Regions from separate parts of the Homo sapiens genome. Here regions 2 and 3 are each linked to region 1. Evidence: fine-mapped expression QTL. A gene starts in region 1. Each other region holds a variant in brackets. All regions are shown on one strand. Distances are from middle to middle.

Region 1 (4,189 bases):
CGAGATGGCACCATTGCACTCCAGCCTGAGCAACAAGAGCAAAACTCTGTCTCAAAAAAAAAAAAGTCAAGACCAACCTGGGCAACCTGGTGAAATCCCACCTCTACCAAAAATACAAAATTAGCCCGACATGGTTGTCCAGGCCTGTGGTCCCAGCTACTGGGAAGGCTGAAGTGGGAAGATGGCTTGGAAGGTCAAGGCTGCAGTGAGCTGTAATAGCACCCTGCATGCCAGCCTGAGCCACAAAGTGAGACCCTGTCTCAAAAAAACAGAATTTGTAAAATGTGTCTCACTATAAATGCTCTATCCGTCAAAAAACACAGCATAGGTGTCCAAAACACAGCATCATTGCCCAAAAACTTTATTCAGGTGTACTTCTAGGAAGGAAAATTTAAGATTTGAATAAAAATTTTCTATATTGGGACATAGAAATTATCAAATTTTGATAGTTTATCATCCAATTCATAAGAAATTCCAATTCATAAGAAATTCATTGGCCTTCAAAATGCCAATGAACATGGGATGACCTTAAAATCAGTATCTGGTTTGACACGCATTGTATTCACTCCCTAAAAAAGCAAGACATGCAACTTGGCTCTTCTTTAAAAGTCTAGGGCCAGGCGCAGTGGCTGACGCCGGTAATCCCAGCACTTTGGGAGGCCGAGGCAAGAGGATCACCTGAGGTCAGGAATTTGAGACCAGCCTGGCCAACATGGCGAAACCCCGTCTCTACTAAAAAATACAAATTAGCCGGTGTGCTAGGGTGTGCTTGTTATCCCAGCTACTCAAGAAGCTGAGGCAGGAGAATCAATCGCTTGAACCCAGGAGGCAGAGGTTGCAGTAAGCTGAGATGGCACCACTGCACTACAGCCTGGGTGACAGAGCAAGACTCCGTCTCAACAAAATAAAAAGTAAAAAAATAAAAGTCTGGGAATAAACAGCATTCTCAGAGTAAGTACACTACCTCAGAATCATCACCACTGCTTCTAAAGTCTCCCTTTCCAAGTGTGACATTCGTTTCTCTACAAAATGCACTTTAGCAGATGTTCAAATTTTCGTCTCCCTTTTGGTGGTAGTCCTTTCCAACAGACTACTAAAAACATATGCATCGCTTAATGCCAGATTCAGAAATGCGAAGGGACATGGAGCCACCAAAAAAGAATATAGACTGTTTTGTCCTGGATTCCTTACCACGTGAAATGGGGAAAAGTCGGCCACTTCAAAGGCCAGAAAAGTATCTTACTAGTGTCCTCGGCCTTCTTGTATATCCAAAAACCTCATCAATTGTTAACAACCAGAAATAAACTAAGAGGCTCCCCAAAAGTGACTTGGCACCGCCACCTCTTCAGCCACCTAGGCTGGTGGTGGCCTGCCGCGGCCACCCCACAGGCGCTGCAGCAGCCCCGCCACTCCCGCATGGTCAGCAACGGACTCCGCCATCTCCTCCGCAGACAGCTACCGGGCGGCGGCGGCAGGGCCCGAGCCTTCTGGCTCGGGGTGCAACGGGCCCCGCATCCCTCCCCATCTAAAGAGGCAAGGCGACCCCCAGCCTCCCCACACTGGCGCCGCGTTCCCGAGCCCGTCTCCACGCCACAGGAAGTCTCCAAACACTGCGGCAGACAGGCGGCTGCAGGCCAGGGGAGAAGAGGGCGCTCCACTCTCCCAAACCCACCCCCGTGGCCCCGGGAACCCCGGGAAGGGCGCGCACCGCCCCCGCCCCCGCCCCCGCCCCCACCCCGGCCCAGATCTCGAGGGCGCGGCCGCCGCCCTGCCCCGCCCCGCCCCGCCGAGTCAGCAGACCCCGGCCCCAGGCGCAGGCGGCGGCCGAATGACACTTGAGAGAGTGAGAGCGGAATCACATGACAGTCCGGGCCACACGCACTTTCTCCCACATGCGCGGCCCACACCCCCCGCGCCCCGCCGCGGACCCTCCGCGTCCCTCCCGCGGCCGCGGCACGGGGCGGGGGCGCCGGCGGTTGCGGCCCAGGTGGGGGCGGCGGTGACCGTTGGGCGCAGGCCGGCGCGCCCCGGCGGGCGGTTGGGTGTTTACCTTGATGCACCGCGACGCTGCAGCCGTGCCCGTCGCAATAAACCAGCGGGTTCTCGGCCCAGCCTCTCTCGTCTGAGCAAACGCAACAGCCTCCAATCATCTCCTTCATACTATGGGAGACCTCGTCCTCCAGTGACACGGGCCGGTCGCTAGAGACCATCTAAGAGGGAGTTGGGGGGACCATTAAAAAACACATGCAAGCCGATTAGTGCTTCCCCCCCACACAGCCCCCCGAGCCCGCCCCGGCGCCCCCCGCCCGGCCCGGCAGCCCACCGCTCGCTCACTCGGGCTTTGCCGCTCAGTCACTCACGTTCCGCACAGGAGTCAGGAGCCATGTCCTTGCTGATTCCCCCCACCTCCCCTCCACCGCCTCCTCCGCCTCCTCCTCCTCCTCAGCGTCTTCCCTCCCCACCTCCACCCGGCCGCTAACGCGGGCGCCCGGAGAGGGCACACATAATCAAGAGGGCCTCCGCACAGGCGCACTGGGGGGAGGGGGGGCTCCCGCTGGGCCAGGGGCAGCGAGGGAGGGGAAGGGGGCTGCGCTTCCTCCTCGGAGCGTCACTTGGCGTGCGCGCCCGTCCTGCGGCCGGCGTGAGGGAGGAGGCCTGGGCGAGGCTAGCCCTGCGTGCGCGCTGCCGCGGCCTGTTGGCTGCCCCCGGCCTACCTCCGGGGCCCCGTCCCCCTCCCCCGCGCCGCTCGCCGCCGCCGAGGTGTGCTGGGGGTGGGCGCGAGGGGAGCCGGCGGCGCGCGGAGGCCGGAATGAACGGGCGCGGGGGCGCGCACGCGGGGGCGGGGACGTTAGGGCCGCCCTCTGCAGCGCTGGTGGCGCGGGCCGCGTGTGAGCGTCGGGAAGAGGCCTGGGAGGTGGCGGGGGAGGTGGACGCCCAGGGCTGGGAAGGGGTTTTCTCAGAATCGCCAGAGGGGAGTCCCCGGGGGCATCATCTCCGTGCCCTGGGAACCTACCTGCTGGCCTTTTCCTCCAAGACTGGCCCGTGGAAAACGAGGGTGGGGCGAGTGTGCCAGCTTCCATGAAGGGTGTAATGAAGCATGGCTTCCTGCAGTTGGCCGCGCTAACTTCACAGTGCTGCCGCAGCCACTCCACCCATTAAATTCACGTCCTGGACTCTTCCCAAAGTTCACCCGCTGGAAGTCCTACCAAATCTGCCGCCCATTTTCGCACTACGTGGGCCCCAATGACAAACGAAAGTGTATTCCAGGCTGAAGGTCAAAAGCCTGTGTTAGGGCTGCACTCGGAGAGGGAACGCCAAGGCGCCCCTCAGCTCGGTGTGCAGGACAAATGGTGGTTTATCCGGAATTAGCAATATAATACGATGATCCGGAAAATGCAGTTGTATTACACCAAAAGGAAGAAGGAACTCTAGCCCTCCTAGTCAGTCGCTAAAACATAATTAACGCCATCAGACAGTGGCGTCCAGTTTTGATGGAGGATTCCTCTGATCCGGGTCTTTTCTCCAAATTTATACTTGGAAATGTGAGGTCATTTAAAAGTGGCAGAAAGATGAGAGCTCCCACCTCACAAACAAATGGAAAATGGATTAGGCCTATCTGCATAGATTAATTAGCTGGATGCTGAGCACTTTTAAACTAAAATCTTCCACTGTCTGCCTATTCCTTATGCATCCGTAAAGCCCAATATTGATGTTTAAGCAAAAAATGTCTAATTAGAAAAGTTTCGCATGAAATCAGAATTATGCATAGATTGTTTAAATGACAAGCCCAGTTAAAAGGCGAATTCATGACTTTTGATTAATACCTTGCAGGTACAAAATGGTTCTTTATCAGCAATTCGCATTATAAATGTGCTGATCTGGAAGATGCACTTTCACAGTGCTAAAGCATAGAGAACCCAAGTTCTCCTAGTCGGTCGCCAAAAGATAATATAATGGTTTGGGCTTTAAAAGCCTTCTAAATGTTCTTCTGATAAAGGGGGGTTAGAAAAGGTATCATGGCTGTTTTTCTATTTCAAATTAATTGCTAGAAATCTGTGTAAGAGTGATAATAGGTATACAGCACAATGAGAGCATATATAGCAAATTCAGATGTTTTAAAAGCTGAGATATACAAAGTAATGGCAATTAAAATATACACTAAAACAATGAGAATTCACATAGTGCATTT
Region 2 (4,189 bases), 91 kb before region 1:
AGAATATCAGCAAAAGCTTGATGAGCAATGAAGAGATTGTCACTAGAAACCTCATGGCCCTTAGCAGGCTGCTACTAAAGGCTTAAACCAAAGTGAGAAAAAGGTAACTGAAAATTGGAAGAAGCTGAATACTTCATAATTAGTAACTGAAAGTTTAGGCACAACCTTGCCTGTGGTAACATGAAAAATAGAAAATGTATTTAATGAGTTGCATAATTTAACAAGGAGATTTCTAGGTATTCGGTGGAAGATGCAGTCTAATTATTTCTTACTGTTTATAGTAAAAAGCAGGAGTACAGAAATAAGTTAATGAAAAGACTGTTGACCAAAAAAAAAGAGCCAAGACTTGCTGGTTTTAAAAATTTCCAGTCTCTGCAGATAGCAAACAATGCTCAAATCAAAGAATGGCTCCCAGAGAAAGATAAAATCTAGGCCACTGTTAGAAAACAGCTGTATGAAGATTTAAAAAAGAGTATGGCTACAAACCCCTTTTTTAAGACCTAAGAAAGACAGAAGGCAATACCTCAGATAACCTGAAATAGGACTTTAAGAGATGTCAAGGTCACAAAAGACAATGAATAAGGACATATTCCAAACTGGGAAATACTGAATAGACATGACAGCTAAATGCAACTTGTGATCTTGGATTGGATCCTGGACATGGAAGAGAAAAATGTTTCCCCCTTTGGTGTAGATGACATCAGTGGCTGCAATTTGAATATGATCTGTAGATTAGATAATAATCTGTAACAATATTAATTTATTGATTTTGATCACTGTACTGTAATTGTTTAGGAAATTCCCCTTTTAATTAAAACTATACACTTTAGTACTTGGGCTAAAGAGGCATTGTTATTTGTAATTTACCCTGCAATGGTTCAGAAAGATTCTACAGAGAGTAGAGGAGAAAGAGAGTGAGAGAGATAGCAAAGGAGGGTAGAGCGAAGGACATGGTAACATTAATATGGTAAAATGTTAACATTTTTGGAATGAGTGAGTAGTACAGCATTATTATTTGTAGTATTTTTGCAACTTTAAGTTTGAAACTATTGAAAAAACCAAAAGTTTAAAAAAAAAAATTAATCCTACTGGCTGCCTGGCTCAATGCCCAAGGACGAAGTCTAAAACTCTAACTGCTTATAAATTCTTCATAAACTAGCCTCTTCTTAGCTAGTCTCATGTTACCATACTCTTCAGTCTCACCCAACACACCCTCACATTCTAAACTGATGTTCCTGAAAAGACCTGTCCTCTCTTAACTCTTCACATATACAGATGCTGAAAGGTTCAACTTGAGCACAAAATTCCAAAAGGAAAGTACACAAAAAGGGCAGGTACCAGGTAACTCTCAATGCTAGAAAACTTTTACAAAGACAAAGAGAAGTCATTCCAATGATATGACTGAGAGTTTTATTCCTTTGAGGGCCACAGAAGAAAGTAGTCTAGCTCTCTTCAAAGAGGTGAGTAATCCTATTCTATGGTTTAAGTGTGGTGTGTTCCTGCCAAAACTCATGTTGAAATTTGCCAATGTGACACTATTGAGAGCTGATGGGGCCATTAAAAGGCGTTTGGGTTACGGGACTACTACCCTCATGAATGTATTAATGCAGCTTTCATGAGGCTGGGTTGATTCTTGCAGGAATAGATTAGAAGGCTGCCTCTCATGTTTGGTCTCCCGTTCTGCACACGTACCTGCTTCCCCTTCAGCTTCTTTGCCATGTAAACATAAGAATCATAGACTTGGGGGGTGGCACGCGTGCGAGATTTCTAGTCATTTTCAAAATGCCTTGCACTGGTTCTCACGGGCCCAGCCACCAGCCCCTGCTCTGCCCTGGATTGATAGCTTGTATCGATCTTGATGAAAGAGCAATTGATGCTCTCAGGGAATTTAATAAAGAAGGAGCTCTGTCTGTACTACAGCAGTTCAAGGAAAGTGACTTATCACATGTTCAGAACAAAAGTGCATTTTTATGTGGAGTTATGAAGACCTACAGGCAGAGAGAGAAACAGGGGAGCTAGGTGCAAGAGTCCACAAAGGGACCTGATGAAGTGAAGATCAAGGCCTTGCTTGAGAGAAA[T/C]GATTATACTCTGAATGTAACCACAGGACAGAGGAAGTATGGTGGGCCTCCACCAAACAGTGTGTACTCTGGTGTGCAACCTAGAATTGGAACAGAGGTGTTTGTAGGTAAAATACCAAGAGATGTATATGAGGATGAGTTGGTGCCCCTTTTTGAGAAGGCCAGTCCCATTTGGGATCTACGTCTTATCATAGATCCACTGTCTGGTCAGAATAGAGGGTAGGCATTTACCACTTTCTGTGGAAAGGAAGCTGCACAGGAAGCTGTGAAACTGTGACAGCTATGAAATTCGCCCTGGTAAACAACATGGAGTGCGCATTTCTGTGGCAAACAACAGACTTTTGTTGGATCCATTCTGAAGAATAAGACTAAAGAAAACACTCTGGAAGAATTCAGTAAAGTCACAGAGGGTTTGGTGGACGTCATTCTCTATGATCAACCTGATGACAAAAAGAAGAAATGGGGGTTCTGCTTCCTTAAATGTGAGGATCACAAGTCAGCAGTACAAGCCAGATGCTGGAAAAGTAAAAGTATGGGGAAATGTAGTTACAGTTGAATGGGCTGACCCTGTGAAGAACCATATCCAGAAGTCATGGCTAAGGTAAAAGTATTCTTTGTGAGAAACTTGGGCACAGACGAAATATTGGAAAAGTCATTTTCTGAATTTGGAGAACTCCAAAGAGTAAATAAGTTGAAAGATTATGCATTTGTTCATTCTGAAGACAGACGAGCAGCTGTTATGGCTATGGATGAAATGAATGGCAAAGAAACAGAAGGGGAAGAACTTGAAATAGTCTTAGCCAAGGCACCAGACAAGAAAAGGAAAGAGCGCCAAGCTGCTAGACAGGCCTCCAGAAGCACTGCATATGAAGATTATCACTACACCCTCCTCCTCGCATGCCGCTTCCGATTAGAGGTTGGGGGAGAGGTGGATATGGCTAACCTCCAGATTACTATGGCATGAAGATTACTACAGTTATGATTACCACATCTATCAAGGAGGTTACGAAGATTCCCTACTATGGCTATGATGGTGGCTATGCAGTAAGAGGAAGAGGAGGAAGGGGAGGGCAGGGTGCTTCACCACCACCAAGGGGGAGGGGAGCACCACCTCCAAGAGGTAGAGCTGGCTATTCACAAAAGGGGGCACCTTTGGGACCACCACGAGGCTGTAGGGGTGGCAGAGGGGGTCCTGCACAACAGCAGAGAGGCCGTGGCCGTGGTTCCCGTGGATCTCAGGGCAATCAGGGGACAATGTAGGACGCAAGAGAAGGCAGATGCTTACAACCAACCTGATTCCAAGCATCGTCAGACCAACAAACAACAGAACTGGGTCTCTCAACCCATCGCTCAGCAGCCGCTTCAGCAAGGTGGTGACTATTCTGGTAACTATGGTTACAATAATGACAACCAGGAATTTTATCAGGATACTTATGGGCAACAGTGGAAGCAGACAAGTAAGGGCTTGAAAATGATAATGGCAAGATACGACTGGCTCTAGATCTACATTCTTCAAAAAAAATTTTGTTTAACTGTTTCATCTTTAAGTAGCAATTTGCTGCCATTTGTATTGGGCTGAAGAAATCACTATTGTGTATATACTCAGGCCTTTTTATTTTTCCTCTTTTCATAAATGCTCTTGGACATTATTGGGCTTACAGAGTTCCCTTATTCTGGGAGTTATGTTTTTATCATTTCGGGCTTCATTTTAGCTTCAAAACAAGCTGAACACACTGTTAAGTCATGATTTTGCAGAACCTGTGGTTTTGAAGAATTTCATTTTTTTGGATCTAGGATAGATTACATAGGAGTATGGAGTATGCTGTAAATAAAAATACAAGCTAGTGCTATGTCTTAGTAGTTTTAAGAAATTAAAGCAAACACATTTAAGTTTTCTTATACTGAAAATAACCTATGATCGTATGTTTTGCATTTTTAGAAGTAGGTTAACTGTGTTTTTAAATTGTTATAACTTCACACCATTTTGAAATCTGCCCTACAAAATTTGTTTGGCTTAAACGTCAAAAGCCATGACAATTTGTTCTTTGATGTGATTGTATTTCCAATTTCCTGTTCATGTAAGATTTCAATAAAACTAAAAAAATCTATTA
Region 3 (4,189 bases), 300 kb before region 1:
GTTGCTCGTTAGTTGATGCAGTTTCTTCCTAGCCTTGATGGTCTTTACAGTTTGGCATGTTTTTTGCAGTGGCTGGTACTGGTTGTTCCTTTCCATGTTTAGTGCTGCCTTCAGGAGTTCTTTTAGGGCAGGCCTGGTGGTGACAAAATCTCTCAGCATTTGCTTGTCTGTAAAGGATTTTATTTCTCCTTCACTTATGAAGCTTAGTTTGGCTGGATATGAAATTCTGGGTTAAAAATTCTTTTCTTTAAGAATGTCGAATATTGGCCCCCGCTGTCTTCTGGCTTGTAGAGTTTCTGCCGAGAGATCCGCTGTTAGTCTGATGGGCTTCCCTTTGTGGGTAACCCGACCTTTCTCTCTGGCTGCCCTTAACATTTTTTCCTTCATTTCAACTTTGGTGAATGTGACAATTATGTGTCTTGGAGTTGGTCTTCTCAAGGAGTATCTTTGTGGTGTTCTCTGTATTTCCTGAATTTGAATGGTGGCCTGCCTTGCTAGATTGGGGAAGTTCTCCTGGACAGTATCCTGCAGAGTGTTTTCCAACTTGGTTCCATTCTCCCTGTCACTTTCAGGTACGCCAATCAGACGTAGACTTGGTCTTTTCACATGGTCCCATATTTCTTGGAGGCTTTGTTCGTTTCTTTTCATTCTTTTTTATGTAAACTTCTCTTCTCGCTTCATTTCATTCAGTTCGTCTTCCATCTCTGATACCCTTTCTTCCAGTTGATCGCATCGGCTACTGAGGCTTCTGCATTCGTCACGTAGCTCTCGTGTGTTGGTTTTCAGCTCCATCAGGTCCTTTAAGGACTTCACTGCATTGGTTATTCTAGTTATCCATTCGTCTAATTTTTTTCAAAGCTTTTAACTTCTTTGCCGTTGGTTCGAATTTCCTCCTTTAGCTCGGAGTAGTTTGATCGTCTGAAGCCTTCTTCTCTCAACTCATCAAAGTCATTCTCCATCCAGCTTTGTTCCCTTGCTGGTGAGGAGCTGCATTCCTTTGGAGGAGGAGAGGTGCTCTGATTTTTAAAGTTTCCAGTTTTTCTGCTCTGTTTTTTTCCCATCTTTGTGGTTTTATCTACCTTTGGTCTTTCATGATGGTGACGTACAGATGGGTTTTTGGTGTGGATGTCCTTTCTGTTTGTTAGTTTTCCTTCTAACAGACAGGACCCTCAGCTGCAGGTCTGTTGGAGTTTGCTGGAGGTCCACTCCAGACCCTGTTTGCCTGGGTATCAGCAGCGGTGGCTGCAGAACAGCGGATATTGGTGAACCCCAGACGCTGCTGTCTGATCGTTCCTCTGGAAGTTTTGTCTCAGAGGAGTACCCGGCTGTGTGAGGTGTCATTCCGCCCCTACTGGGGGGTGCCTCCCAGACAGGCTTCTCGGGGATCAGGGACCCACTTGAGGAGGCAGTCTGCCCATTCTCAGATCTCAAGCTGCGTGCTGGGAGAACCACTACTCTCTTCAAAGGTGTCAGAGTGGGACATTTAAGTCTGCAGAGGTTACTGCTGTCTTTTTGTTTGTCTATGCCCTGTCCCCAGAGGTGGAGCCTACAGAGGTAGGCAGGCGTCCTTGAGCTGTGGTGGGCTCCACCCTGTTCGAGCTTCCTGGCTGCTTTGTTTACCTAATCAAACAACTAACTTGGCAATGGCGGGTGCCCCTCCCCCAGCCTCGCTGCCACCTTGCAGTTTGATCTCAGACTGCTGTGCTAGCAATGAGCGAGACTCCATGGGCTTAGGACCCTCTGAACCAGGTGCGGGATATAATCTCCTGGTGTGCCGTTTTTTAAGTCCGTTGGAAAAGTGCAGTATTAGGGTGGGAGTGACCCGATTTTCCAGGTGC[C/T]GTCTGTCACTGCTTTCTTTGACTAGGAAAGGGAATTCCCTGACCCCTTGGGCTTCCAGGGTGAGGCGATGCCTCGCCCTGCTTCGGCTCGCGTACGGTGCGCTGCACCTACTGTCCTGCACCTACTGTCTGGTACTCCCCAGTGAGATGAACCCGGTACCTCAGTTGAAAATGCAGAAATCACCCATCTTCTGCGTTGCTCACGCTGGTAGCTGTAGACCAGAGCTGTTCCCATTCGGCCATCTTGGCTCCTCTCCTTAGTCCACATTAGGTCTTTTAAACAACGTTTCACTGGGGAGCCCCTCTTTCTTTCTTTCTTATTTTTTTTTGAGATGGAGTCTTGCTCTGTCGCCCAGGCTGGAGTGCAGTGGCACGATCTCAGCTCACTGCAAGCTCCACCTCCCAGGTTGACGCCATTGTCCTGCCTCAGCCTCCCGAGTAGCTGGGACTACAGGCGCCCGCCACCGTGCCCGGTTAATTTTTTGTATTTTTAGTAGAGATGGGGTTTCACCGTGTTACCCAGGATGGTCTCGATCTCCTGACCTCGTGGTCCGCCCACCTCAGCCTCCCAAAGTGCTGTGATTACAGGTGTGAGCCACCGCACCTGGCCTGGGGAACCCCTCTTTCATAAAGTATTTTTTTTTACAAACTTACCCTACAGTGATCTTTCCCCTGTCTGATTTCTAGTAGCACATTTCTGTGCCACTTAATCTTGTATTTGGTTGTATAATGCTTTACATTATATAGTATTTTGTTGGTGGTAATTTTTTTAATAAAAAACAGTTGCCATCTATCTGCTGGTGGAAGAGTGTGAGTGGGTGGTACAGTGATAAATAAGACATACTGAATTTTGTCCTGAATATTAGCTAACATTTATTAAGTGGCTACTGTGTGCCTGGTACTGTTCTGCGCACTTCATGTGTATTAACTTATTTGATTCTCACAGCAACTCCATTTGGTAGATGCTATTATTTTCTTCATTTTACACAGGAGAAAACTGAGAGGCAAGGTAAATTCTCCCACACTGCTTAGCTAATACATGACATAGCCGTGATTCACACCCACTTCACTGGTTTCAGAATTCATGCTTTTTTAAATTTATTTATTTTTATTTTATTTTTTGTGTCAGAGTCTCACACTGTTGCCTCAGCTGGAGTGCAATGGCACCATCTCGGCTCACTGCAACCTCCGCCTCCTAGGTTCAATTGATTCGCCTGCCTCAGTCTCCCAAATAGCTGGGATTACAGGCGCCCGTCACCATGCCCAGCTGATTTTTTGTATTTTTAGTAGAGATGGGGTTTCACTGTGTTGGCCAGGCTGGTCTCAAACTCCTGACCTTGTGATCCACCTGCCTCAGCCTCCCAAAGTGCTGGGATTAGAGGCCTGAGCCACTGCGCCCAGCCAGAACTCATGCTCTTAACCACTGTCACTATATCATGTAGTTGAAAAGGTCAGACAAAGAGCTAAATAAGCATATTTTGAGGTGTACTTTGTGAGAGGTTTAAAGTACTATTGCAGTTTAGCAGATGGCAAGATTACTTCCACCTAGGAAAAAACCAAAAATTTTTATGAAAGATTTAGAAGTGGGGTGGGGAAAACATTCCAGAAACTAAGGAATAAATCACTCTTGAGACAGAACTACTCAGAGCATATCATCAGGAACAGTGAGTAATTTAGTTTAGCTGGGTCAAAGGATTCTTGAAATGATAAAGAGAAAATATGTTTGTAAAAGTAGGTCGCAGCCAAATCATAGATCTTGAATGAGAGGTTAGAGTGTTTAAATCATACAGAAGGTGAAGTGATGTTGTCCACATATTAGAAATATTTCACTGCAAAAGTATATAAGATCAAAGGGAAGAGAAGGACCCATTAGAAGATTTTTGCAATAGTCTTAGTAAGAGATAATAAATTCCTGAGTGAAGTAGCTAACAGAAATAGAGACCAGGGGAGAGACTGGACAAATCTTGAATGTTCAGGATTCAAGAAATCAGTTGATTGGATAATGCAATAAGGAGGAGGAAGAAGTAAAAATGCCTACTTGGTGATTGGAAGAGACAGTTACCATTAAAAAAATATGGGGCATGGTTAGGAGGTGATAGTTTGGCAGAGAGAATGATATGTAATCAGTTTGGTATGTGCTAAGTTTATGATGCAAATGGGACATACATCAGGAAACATTCAGCAGATAGTTGTTAATGTAGAATTTAAGAAATCAGAACTAGAGATGTAACTACTGGGGACCTTGACATACATTTGATGGCTAAAACCAGGGAAGCACATAGAAGAAAAACATCTAGGAGAGAAATTGAGGAATCAGAACCAGAAAAGGAATATTCCCAAAGTAAGGAGAA

What was found. PIP is the estimated chance that this variant, and not a neighbour inherited with it, causes the effect.
Region 2: its variant is the best candidate, but not a certain one, in a credible set for the expression of MLLT10 in whole blood (INTERVAL, PIP 0.77).
Region 3: its variant is the best candidate, but not a certain one, in a credible set for the expression of MLLT10 in whole blood (INTERVAL, PIP 0.54).

Annotation. Positions count from the first base shown.
Region 1 is chr10:21,532,666-21,536,854 of GRCh38, reverse strand. MLLT10 (MLLT10 histone lysine methyltransferase DOT1L cofactor) reads right to left here and starts at 2,623. Exons shown (of 23, transcript NM_001195626.3): 1 at 2,335-2,623; 2 at 2,051-2,210. The coding sequence starts at 2,210. RefSeq lists enhancers at 136-649, 913-1,625, 2,341-3,054 and silencers at 1,686-1,775, 1,916-2,255, 2,366-2,435, 2,446-2,975.
Region 2 is chr10:21,623,931-21,628,119 of GRCh38, reverse strand. All of the region lies in intron 8 of MLLT10 (MLLT10 histone lysine methyltransferase DOT1L cofactor), which reads right to left. It also overlaps the pseudogene HNRNPRP1. Among named protein-coding and RNA genes, the nearest start is that of MLLT10, 92 kb to the right of the region's middle. The variant T/C (reference allele first, on the strand shown) is at 2,079.
Region 3 is chr10:21,832,242-21,836,430 of GRCh38, reverse strand. The region is part of intron 8 of DNAJC1 (DnaJ heat shock protein family (Hsp40) member C1); the gene reads left to right. Among named protein-coding and RNA genes, the nearest start is that of DNAJC1, 170 kb to the left of the region's middle. The variant C/T (reference allele first, on the strand shown) is at 1,839.